3 separate regions of the Homo sapiens genome follow, and all the other regions are linked to region 2. Evidence: fine-mapped expression QTL. A gene starts in region 2. Each other region holds a variant in brackets. All regions are shown on one strand. Distances are from middle to middle. Region 1 overlaps TTLL5 (tubulin tyrosine ligase like 5). Region 2 holds the start of ERG28 (ergosterol biosynthesis 28 homolog). Region 3 overlaps FLVCR2 (FLVCR choline and putative heme transporter 2).

The links. PIP is the estimated chance that this variant, and not a neighbour inherited with it, causes the effect.
Region 1: its variant is the best candidate, but not a certain one, in a credible set for the expression of ERG28 in monocytes after R848 (Quach 2016, PIP 0.51).
Region 3: its variant is the best candidate, but not a certain one, in a credible set for the expression of ERG28 in monocytes (TOPMed, PIP 0.72).

Annotation. Positions count from the first base shown.
Region 1 is chr14:75,857,057-75,859,863 of GRCh38, forward strand. All of the region lies in intron 28 of TTLL5 (tubulin tyrosine ligase like 5), which reads left to right. Among named protein-coding and RNA genes, the nearest start is that of TGFB3, 120 kb to the right of the region's middle. The variant A/G (reference allele first, on the strand shown) is at 1,105.
Region 2 is chr14:75,659,282-75,661,942 of GRCh38, forward strand. It overlaps ERG28 (ergosterol biosynthesis 28 homolog), which reads right to left and starts at 1,595. Exons shown (of 5, transcript NM_007176.4): 1 at 1,494-1,595. It overlaps TTLL5 (tubulin tyrosine ligase like 5), which reads left to right and starts at 1,965. Exons shown (of 32, transcript NM_015072.5): 1 at 1,965-2,106. RefSeq lists a silencer at 1,657-1,706 and an enhancer at 1,817-2,036.
Region 3 is chr14:75,613,722-75,616,528 of GRCh38, forward strand. All of the region lies in intron 1 of FLVCR2 (FLVCR choline and putative heme transporter 2), which reads left to right. Among named protein-coding and RNA genes, the nearest start is that of FLVCR2-AS1, 36 kb to the left of the region's middle. The variant A/T (reference allele first, on the strand shown) is at 1,600.

The DNA.
Region 1 (2,807 bases), 200 kb after region 2:
TCTAAAGTTTATAAGGTTTTCTATGTAAACAATCATCTGTCAATGAATAATATCTTTTTTTCTTGTCTTAAACTGGCTAGGTCATCCTTTACTGCTGTTGAATAGAAATGTTTTCTAGTTTACTAAGAGTGTCTGTCAGGAAATGGGTATTGAATTTTGTCAAATGCATTTCATGTCTAACGGTATTAATATATGACTTTTCTTCATTCTCTTAATGTGGTGAATTATATGATAGATTTTTTTTCTAATGTTACCCTTGCATTCCTATGGTAAATGCCACTTGGCCATGATATATTATCCTAGTGTATTTGATTGGTTGGTTGATTAGATAGATAGATAGATAGATAGATAGATAGATAGATTTTATTAGCTAATATTGTGTTAAAGTTTTTTTATGTATCTGTGTTCATCAGGCATATTGGTCTGAAAAGACCAAAAGAAAGTAATTTTTTTTTGTACTATCTTTGTCAGATTTCTGTATTAGAGATATGCTAACCTCATGAGTTGGGAAGTTTTTTTTTTCTCTGCTCTTTTTTGGAAGAGTTTGTGAAAGGATGGAATTATTTCTTCTTGTTTGATAGAATTCTTTTTTTTTTTTTTGGTGGGGAGGGGGAGACAAGAGTCTCACTCTGTCGCCCAGGCTGGAGTACAGTGGCACAATCTCCGCTCACTGCAACCTCCGCCTCCCAGGTTCAAGCGATTCTCCTGCCTCAGCCTCCTGAGTAACTGGAATTACAGGCACCAGCCACCACTCCTGGCTATTTTAATATTTTTAGTAGAGATGGGGTTTCAACATGTTGGCCAGACTGGTCTCGAACTCCTGAACTTAAGCGATCCGCCCACCTCGACCTCCCAAAGTGCTAGGATTACAGGAGTGAGCCACCACGCCTGGCATAGAATTCATTTTGTAATCATCCGGGCTTAGAATTTTCCTTCTATGTAAGAAAATATTAAGGTTTTTAAAAAGGTTTGATTACAAATTAAATTTTTAAAATACGTATTGCAGCAGGTCTGTGATTCTCAAAGTGCTATTATTGGACCTGGGGGCTGCGGAGAGGTTGGGAGGAGGGGGGATCCTCAGGACCCTTTGAGGAAGCCAATAGA[A/G]TCAAACATTTTCATAGTGGTACTGAGACATTTCTACTTTTTTCACTGTGTTGACATTTGCACCGATGGTACAAAAACGATGGTGGGTTTTGTAAAACTGCTCGTGCCTTAGCACAGATCCAGGCAATGGCACCAAACTGTAGTAGAAGTCACTGTATTCTTGACCACCATAGCATTTTCACTTGAAAGAAATGCCAGTGCTACTTAAGAGTATCCTTCATAAGCAGTAATATTTTCTTAAACTCAACCCTGGAGTGTATATCTTTTTAATATTCTGTCTGACAAAATGAGATGTACACATAAAGCAATTCGGCTGCTTAGTATGTAATAGTTGTCTCAAGGAAAGGCATTTGTGACCCTGAACTTGAAAGAGCATCTATCTGATAGACAAACTAGGGTTATTTGGATTTGGATATTTGGCAGTTGTTTCCTCAAAAGTAAACAGTGAGCCTATCACTTCAAAGAATACAACTGACAGTATTTGTTGTCAATGATAAAATTACAGCTTTTCAGGAAAAGTTTGACTTTTGGAAAACGTGTATCCACCACTGTGAGTTTGACATCTTCCTAATACTTGAAGATTTAAATATCTGTACATTTCACAAAGTGCCATTGAAGTGAATAGACTTTCTTGTAAAGAAATAATTTCTCCCCAGAAAGCACCTCCTTCATGGCCTTATAGTGTTTCTCATCAGAAGCACCACTGGCATTTTAAGCAGCACACATTTTCTTAATACAAGACTATTCCTTTCATTTCTGGATATTTAACACCCTGACCTCCGCCAATTAAATGTCAGTGACACCTCCACCCCCATCATTGTGACAATTGAAAGCACACTCACAGTTGCAAGCACGATCAAAAAGAGCAGGGGCATCCTTGTACATGGTAGCTTGTGTTTGGCTGGACTTGGGTGGAGGAGGCTGGGAAGATGGACCGTGGAATCACCCTCTATACAAGTGTCACAGTCCTCTGCATATCTTTATGGAGAGTGCAACTTCCATTGAGATTTTGCTTTACATTTTTCAGATTCCCTCCAAGTTCCCTAAAACCAGTATCCATTTGATGGAACAGATATTAAACCAGAGGAAAAGTATAGCTCTTCAATGTTTATTGGCTGGAGGTTGCAGGTATGCTGCAGGAAGGGCAGTTGTAGAGAAAAACATTTCATCCTGCAGTGCCACAGTACAATATAGAAAGTAAGATAAAGTTCTAAATGGATAGGCTATTAAGAGAATGTAGTATTTAGAAAAATTTGCAATATTGTTGCCTATTTGCTACATATGTAAAGGGGAAATACAGCCTAATTCACTTTGAATCAGATGTTAAGCACAGAACCTTCCCACAGCTAATTCTCTTGGCTCTGTGTACTCTGTTGTAGAAGTAAAGTAAATCAATTAGAAGATATTTACGGGGCCTGTGTACAATATTATGTTTTAGCATTGAGCAAGGAAAAACACTAAATTTTGGAGAGAATGATTGAACCTCAAAATTTTTGGTAGGAGTAGAAAAAACATTATTAGAAAAATAGAATTCGTTGAGGTTCAAGAATGGGATGGAATTTTGCATTGAAATAGAAAGTATGAGATGCCTAGAAAGGAATATTTAGATATATAAACTTGGGCACCAGAAATCAAGGAAAGGCCAAGTTATGGTACACCTGGCCTCCGCTGTGTCAATCATTATAGCATTAGCATACTGCAAA
Region 2 (2,661 bases):
ACCATATCCACTTTTGTCTTCAAGTTGTATGGAAAATACAATTAGATTACATACTTTTTGTTTTTTAATTTATTATTTATTTATTTATTTTTTTGAGACAGGGTCTTGCTCTGTCACACAGGCTGGAATGCAGTGGCATAGTCATGGCTCATTGCAGCCTTGAAATCAAAGGCTTAAGTGATCCTCCTACCTCAACCTCTCCACTTGGGCTCAACTGATCCACTCACCTTGGCCTCGCCTCCCAAATGCTGGGATTACAGGTGTGAGCTACAGCACCCAGCCTTTTTTTTTTTTTTTTTAAGGCTTAGTTCAACTCTTGTTGAGTAGTAATTTCAGTTAGTCTGATTTAAATAAAACCAAAATAGATAAATAATCTAATAATGGAATGACTTTTTCCCATCCTCATTATTATTTTCTTGGTCCACGGTTTATCTGTTGTCAGGTTAACCTCTTGGGCCTGAAGTGGTAATAAACTAACAGGCTTTCTTTGTCACTTTGGCAATACAAGTTTCGGTATTGTTCTCTGCTACCCAGTGGGACAGATATTAAAGTCAGCAATGGCCCAAGACAGTGTGAAACACCGCCGCCCCCCCCCGCCAACTCCCCGCCCCAAACAAGCAATAAAGAGATCTAGAGAAGGAAGGGTGAATTGATGAGCCCTTCAGGGAGAGCTGGATCACAAAGGTGGTCTCTGTCGAAGATCAGAGAGACTGAGGGTCTACTGGACATCACAGGCCATTATCATTTGGGCCAAGATCCACCCATCCTCTTTATTTTCTCACTCTCTCTCAAGAGGAGACTCCTCCGGGGTTTAGAAAAGCTGCATGGATGCACCTCTCCACTTTTCTGCACAAGTATGCCTTCCATTTCACAGAAGTGTTATCTGTTAGAAATCCCAACAGATAGCTGATGAGGACAGAGCCTGAGCACTTCTGAATTGCTCTGCCAATTTCTCAACCTAATTTCCCTAAAGCTTAAGGGCCTCTTAGAGTGTATACAACATCTATTTCCAAATTTTGTCCTGGCCCTGGCCCAGCCCAGCCAAGCCCAGCCCAGCATAGGTGTGCTGTTAAAACTTAATCAGGAGAAAGGGATTCTTATCCTGGCCCTACCACTTAGTAGCTGTGTGACCCTGGGTAAGTCATTTACACTTTTCAGTCTCGGTTTCCTCATCTGCAAAATGGAGATAGAAATATCAACCCGAAGGGCTATTGTAAGAATTATATGACAAAAAGTGAAGGCTCTTTGTACAGTGCTAGGCTCATAGTGGCTGCTCATTCGCTCATCCATTCCTTCGTTCCTTGAATTCACCAAGCCTTCTCCATCTTCCTAGCTCCCCCTTGTCATCGCCTCTCGAAACCTTTTCCCCCCAAAAGGTTGCCTTCCAGTTATCTTCCTTCCATCCCACCTCCATTTTTCCAGACTCTCCGGATCCTCTCAATCAGAAGCAACACAGACACCTACATCCCTCTTCTCCCCCATATTCTCCTTACCTGGCGACCGGGCCCCCAGCACAGCAGTGGCAGCAGCAGCCGCTGCCGCAAACAAGCTCCCCCAGGACAGCTCCAGCCCGGAGTCCACCTGAGCCATTTGTCCCCGCCCCCTCCCTCAGCCCTGCTCCAGGATTGGGCCGTTTCCGTCAGTACTCTCTCTGATTGGCTGTCCCGGTTTCGCCCGAGCAGGAGATGGGGAGTGAACCCCTTTACTGCCAATCAGCGGTTGCCGCTGCCTAAGCCTCTCCCCAGGTACGCCGCTCACGCCGTAAGCCCTCCTGTTGGACCTAGCGGAACTCCGGGTTTGGAGTCAACCTCTTAGGGGCGGAGAAAAAAACAGCGGAAAAAAAAAAAAAAAAGAAGACTCCCTTCAGCTGAGGGCAGGGCTCTGCGCCCGCGCTGCGCGGCGGTGACGACATTCGCCCGCGTCCGCAGCTGAGCGTTATGAGCGCCTGCGCAGTGGCTCCGAGCGGGCGGTTGCTTGTTGGTTGTTGTAGTAACCGGGGAAGCAGCCGTCGGCGGCTGCCCTGAGCCTTCCTGGGGAAGGAGGAGGGAGGTAGGCGCAGAGCGCGGTCCACGCCTGCTCGCCCCGAACCATGGGAAGATGAGACAGGTAAACGCCTGCGCCCGCGCGCTTCCCTACCCTAGGGAGGAGCATTCCCGGGTCCGGGCTGGCGCCTGCAGCAGGACTTCCCGCTCAGAGCCCGGGAGTAGCTGTTGGCTTCCGGGCGCGCCGCGTTGAATCGCGGCTGCGGGGTCGTCCCGTCCTTCCCGGGGGGAGCATCTGCGGACCTACGTGGGATTGGGGTGAGCTGGGGGTGGGGCTGAGAAGCAGATTCCTTTCGGGAGAGGAGTCTCCTTAGGTGAGTATCTCTACTCTTCTTCCGATAGACCTGTTTCTCCCCGCTCTGCAGGCAGCCTAGGAGAGGTTGGCATCCCTTCCCGTTTGGAGGTTTTGTTTGTTTAAACTTAAAGGGCTTCCCAGCATTTTGGGAAAGATCAAGAAATCCCGTTGAGAATCCCCTGAAGAAAGCCATTGAAGTTGTTAGACATTGCCTATTGCGCCGAAGATCTTTGATCATTATCGGGGTCTGTTTTTTTTTTGTCTTATTTACAGTCTCATCGTATTTATGAATGCATGGAAAAGTTAAGAAGGATTGACAGCAAG
Region 3 (2,807 bases), 45 kb before region 2:
TGTATTTTTAGTAGAGATAGGGTTTCACCAGGTTGGCCAGGCTGGTCTCAAACTCCTGACCTCAAATGATCCACCCACCTTGGCCTCCCAAAGTGCTGGGATTATAGGCATGAGCCACCACACCCAGCCTCAACATGAGCTTTAGAGGGGACAACATCCAAACCCATCATGCCCCTTTACATAGTAACACTTTCTCCCAAGTTGTCTGTGCAGCTGAAGTTTTCCTCAGCTGCCCTACTCTGTGAACTTAACTTCAGATTAATCTTTAGGCCATAAAATCATTGGTAGTGTGCATAGAGGTATGTAGATATACACATTTACCTAATAACTGTATCATGTAAAACATCCTTTGGCAAGGACAGCATCATACTGAATGCTTTAAAATTGCTCATTTGGGTTGATGGGCTTACAGTAATCCAATGTGTGAAAGTCTAGATTGAACCTCAATGTATCTTTTATGAGGCTCTTATTTTAAAAGGATCCTCAACCATGCTTTTTAAAGTATCAAACTTTCTCTGAGAACCTTGTCTAGACTTAAATTTCCAACCACATCTTTCCACAGTTCTGGGCTCACATGACAAATGTGCAGTGGCAATGGTGCTTTCCTGACATGCCAGTTAACTGCAGCTCATTCTTTCAACAACCATGTATTGAGTAAGCGCCAGACTAGCAAGTATCAGGAAAATGACTGACAACCCAAAGATTAGAGGAAGTTAGAGCAAGGCAATCACGCCTAGTGAGGATCGTCAAGGAAAGCTCTGTGAGAGAATTCACATGGTGATGGGCTCTGAAAGATTAAAAAGGGGATAACTTGGGATAAAGGTATAGACGAGATGATGGGAAGGTTGGAATCATGACTTGTTCAATCTGGCTGGAATATAGGGGATTTATAGGGATACAGAAGAGAAGGGTCTGGAAAGGAAGGTTGAAACTAGCAAAGACAGCTGTATTAGTCTGTTTTCACGCTGTGATAAAGAACTGCTTGAAACTGGGTAATTTATAAAGAAAAGAGGTTTAATTGACTCACTGCTCCAAATGGCTAGGGAGGCCTCAGGAAACTTACAATCATGGTGGAAGGGGAAACAGGCACATCTTACATGGTGGTAGGCAAGAGAGCGAGAGAGAGAGCGTCTGAAGGAGGAACTGTCAAACATTTTTCTAACCATCAGGTCTTGTGAGAACTCACTACCATGAGAATACCATGGGAGAAACTGCCCCCATGATCCAGTCACCTCCCACCAGGCCCCTTCCTTGGCACATGGGGATTACAATTCGAGATGAGATTTTGGTGGGGACACAGAGCCAAACCAAATCAATGGCTAAGAACAGTAGCTGAGGGGTTTGGACCTGCTTCCTTCCTCTGAGAGGGCTGACACCTTGAAGTTCTTTAAGCAGGGACGGTGGGGTCAATGCAACGCCAAGGACCATGAATGTGAGTACATCATGCAGGTCGGGCAGAGGAGAGATCACAGTTGCCTGGGAGAAAGGCAGAAAGGTCCGAAGTGGGACAGGGCAGATTCAAAGAGGACTTTGCAGAAGGGTTTGGGAGGATCTGAGACGAAGTGCATATAAGAGGGCAGAGTCAAAGATGACTAAGAT[A/T]ATTGAGGAAGGACACGCAGATGGAGCCAGAGAAGGAAGTGAAGCAGAACCAGGGTAGGATGATGGTTTGTATGACTTCCCCAAATAAACCAAGTGCATCTTGGGAGTCCCAGTGGCCTCTGCTGCCTGTCACCTCTGCTGTGTGAGAGTGTGTGGGAAAGGGCCAACCCTGCAGACAGGGAGTGAGCCTCAGCCCGATGAGCTAGGTGGTATTTTCTTCCTCTTGTGGATTAGGAAACACACAGAGAGGTCAATTAACTTGCCAAGCTCTAGTAACTGGTAGGGCCGAGATTTGAATTGAGATCTTTCTGACCCCTGACCCTGAGCCCTTAAGCACTATATTAGTATGATGATGTCTCTGAGGAATGTTGAAGCAGAAAGGAGAAGTGGGAGATTCATTTAAAAAAGCATAAGGCCGGCTGGGCGTCATGGCTCATGCCTATAATCCCAGCATTTTGGGAGGCCGAGGCGGGCGGATCACAAGGTCAGGAGATTGAGACCATCCTGGCTAACACATGAAACCCTGTCTCTACTAAAAATACAAAAAAAAAAAAAAATTAGCCAGATGTGGTGGCGGGAACCTGTAATCCCAGCTACTCGGGAAGCTGAGGCAGGAGAATGGCATGAACCCGGGAGATGGAGCTTGCAGTGAGCCGAGATCGTGCCACTGCACTCCAGCCTGGGTGACAGAGTGAGACTCCATCTCAAAAAAAAAAAAAAAAAAAAAATAGCGTAAGTCCAGTTATGGTGGCTCATACCTGTAATCTCAATATTTTGGGAAGCTGAGATGGGAAGACCACTTGAGACCAGCCTAGGCAACATAGTGAGAGACCCCAATTCCACAAAAAATTAAAAAATCAGCCAGGCATGGTGTCATGATCCTGTAGTTCCAGCTACTTGGGAGGCTGAGGCAGGAGAATTGCTTGAACCCAGGAGGCGGAGGTTGCAGTGAGCCAAGATTGCGCCACTGCACTCCAGCCTGGCGACAGAGTGAGACTCTGTCTCAAAAAAAAAAAATTTTTTTTAATTTAAAAAATAAAAATAGCATAGCATGGGCATGAGGCAAGCCCCAGATTAGGTCATAAAGGGACCAAATTTGATGGAAGCCTTCAGCCTCAGGGACTCTGGTGCAAAGAAAGCAGCTGGCTCAATAAAGGGATACATACATATATATATTTTTTAATTGATACATGGCATTTTACATGTTT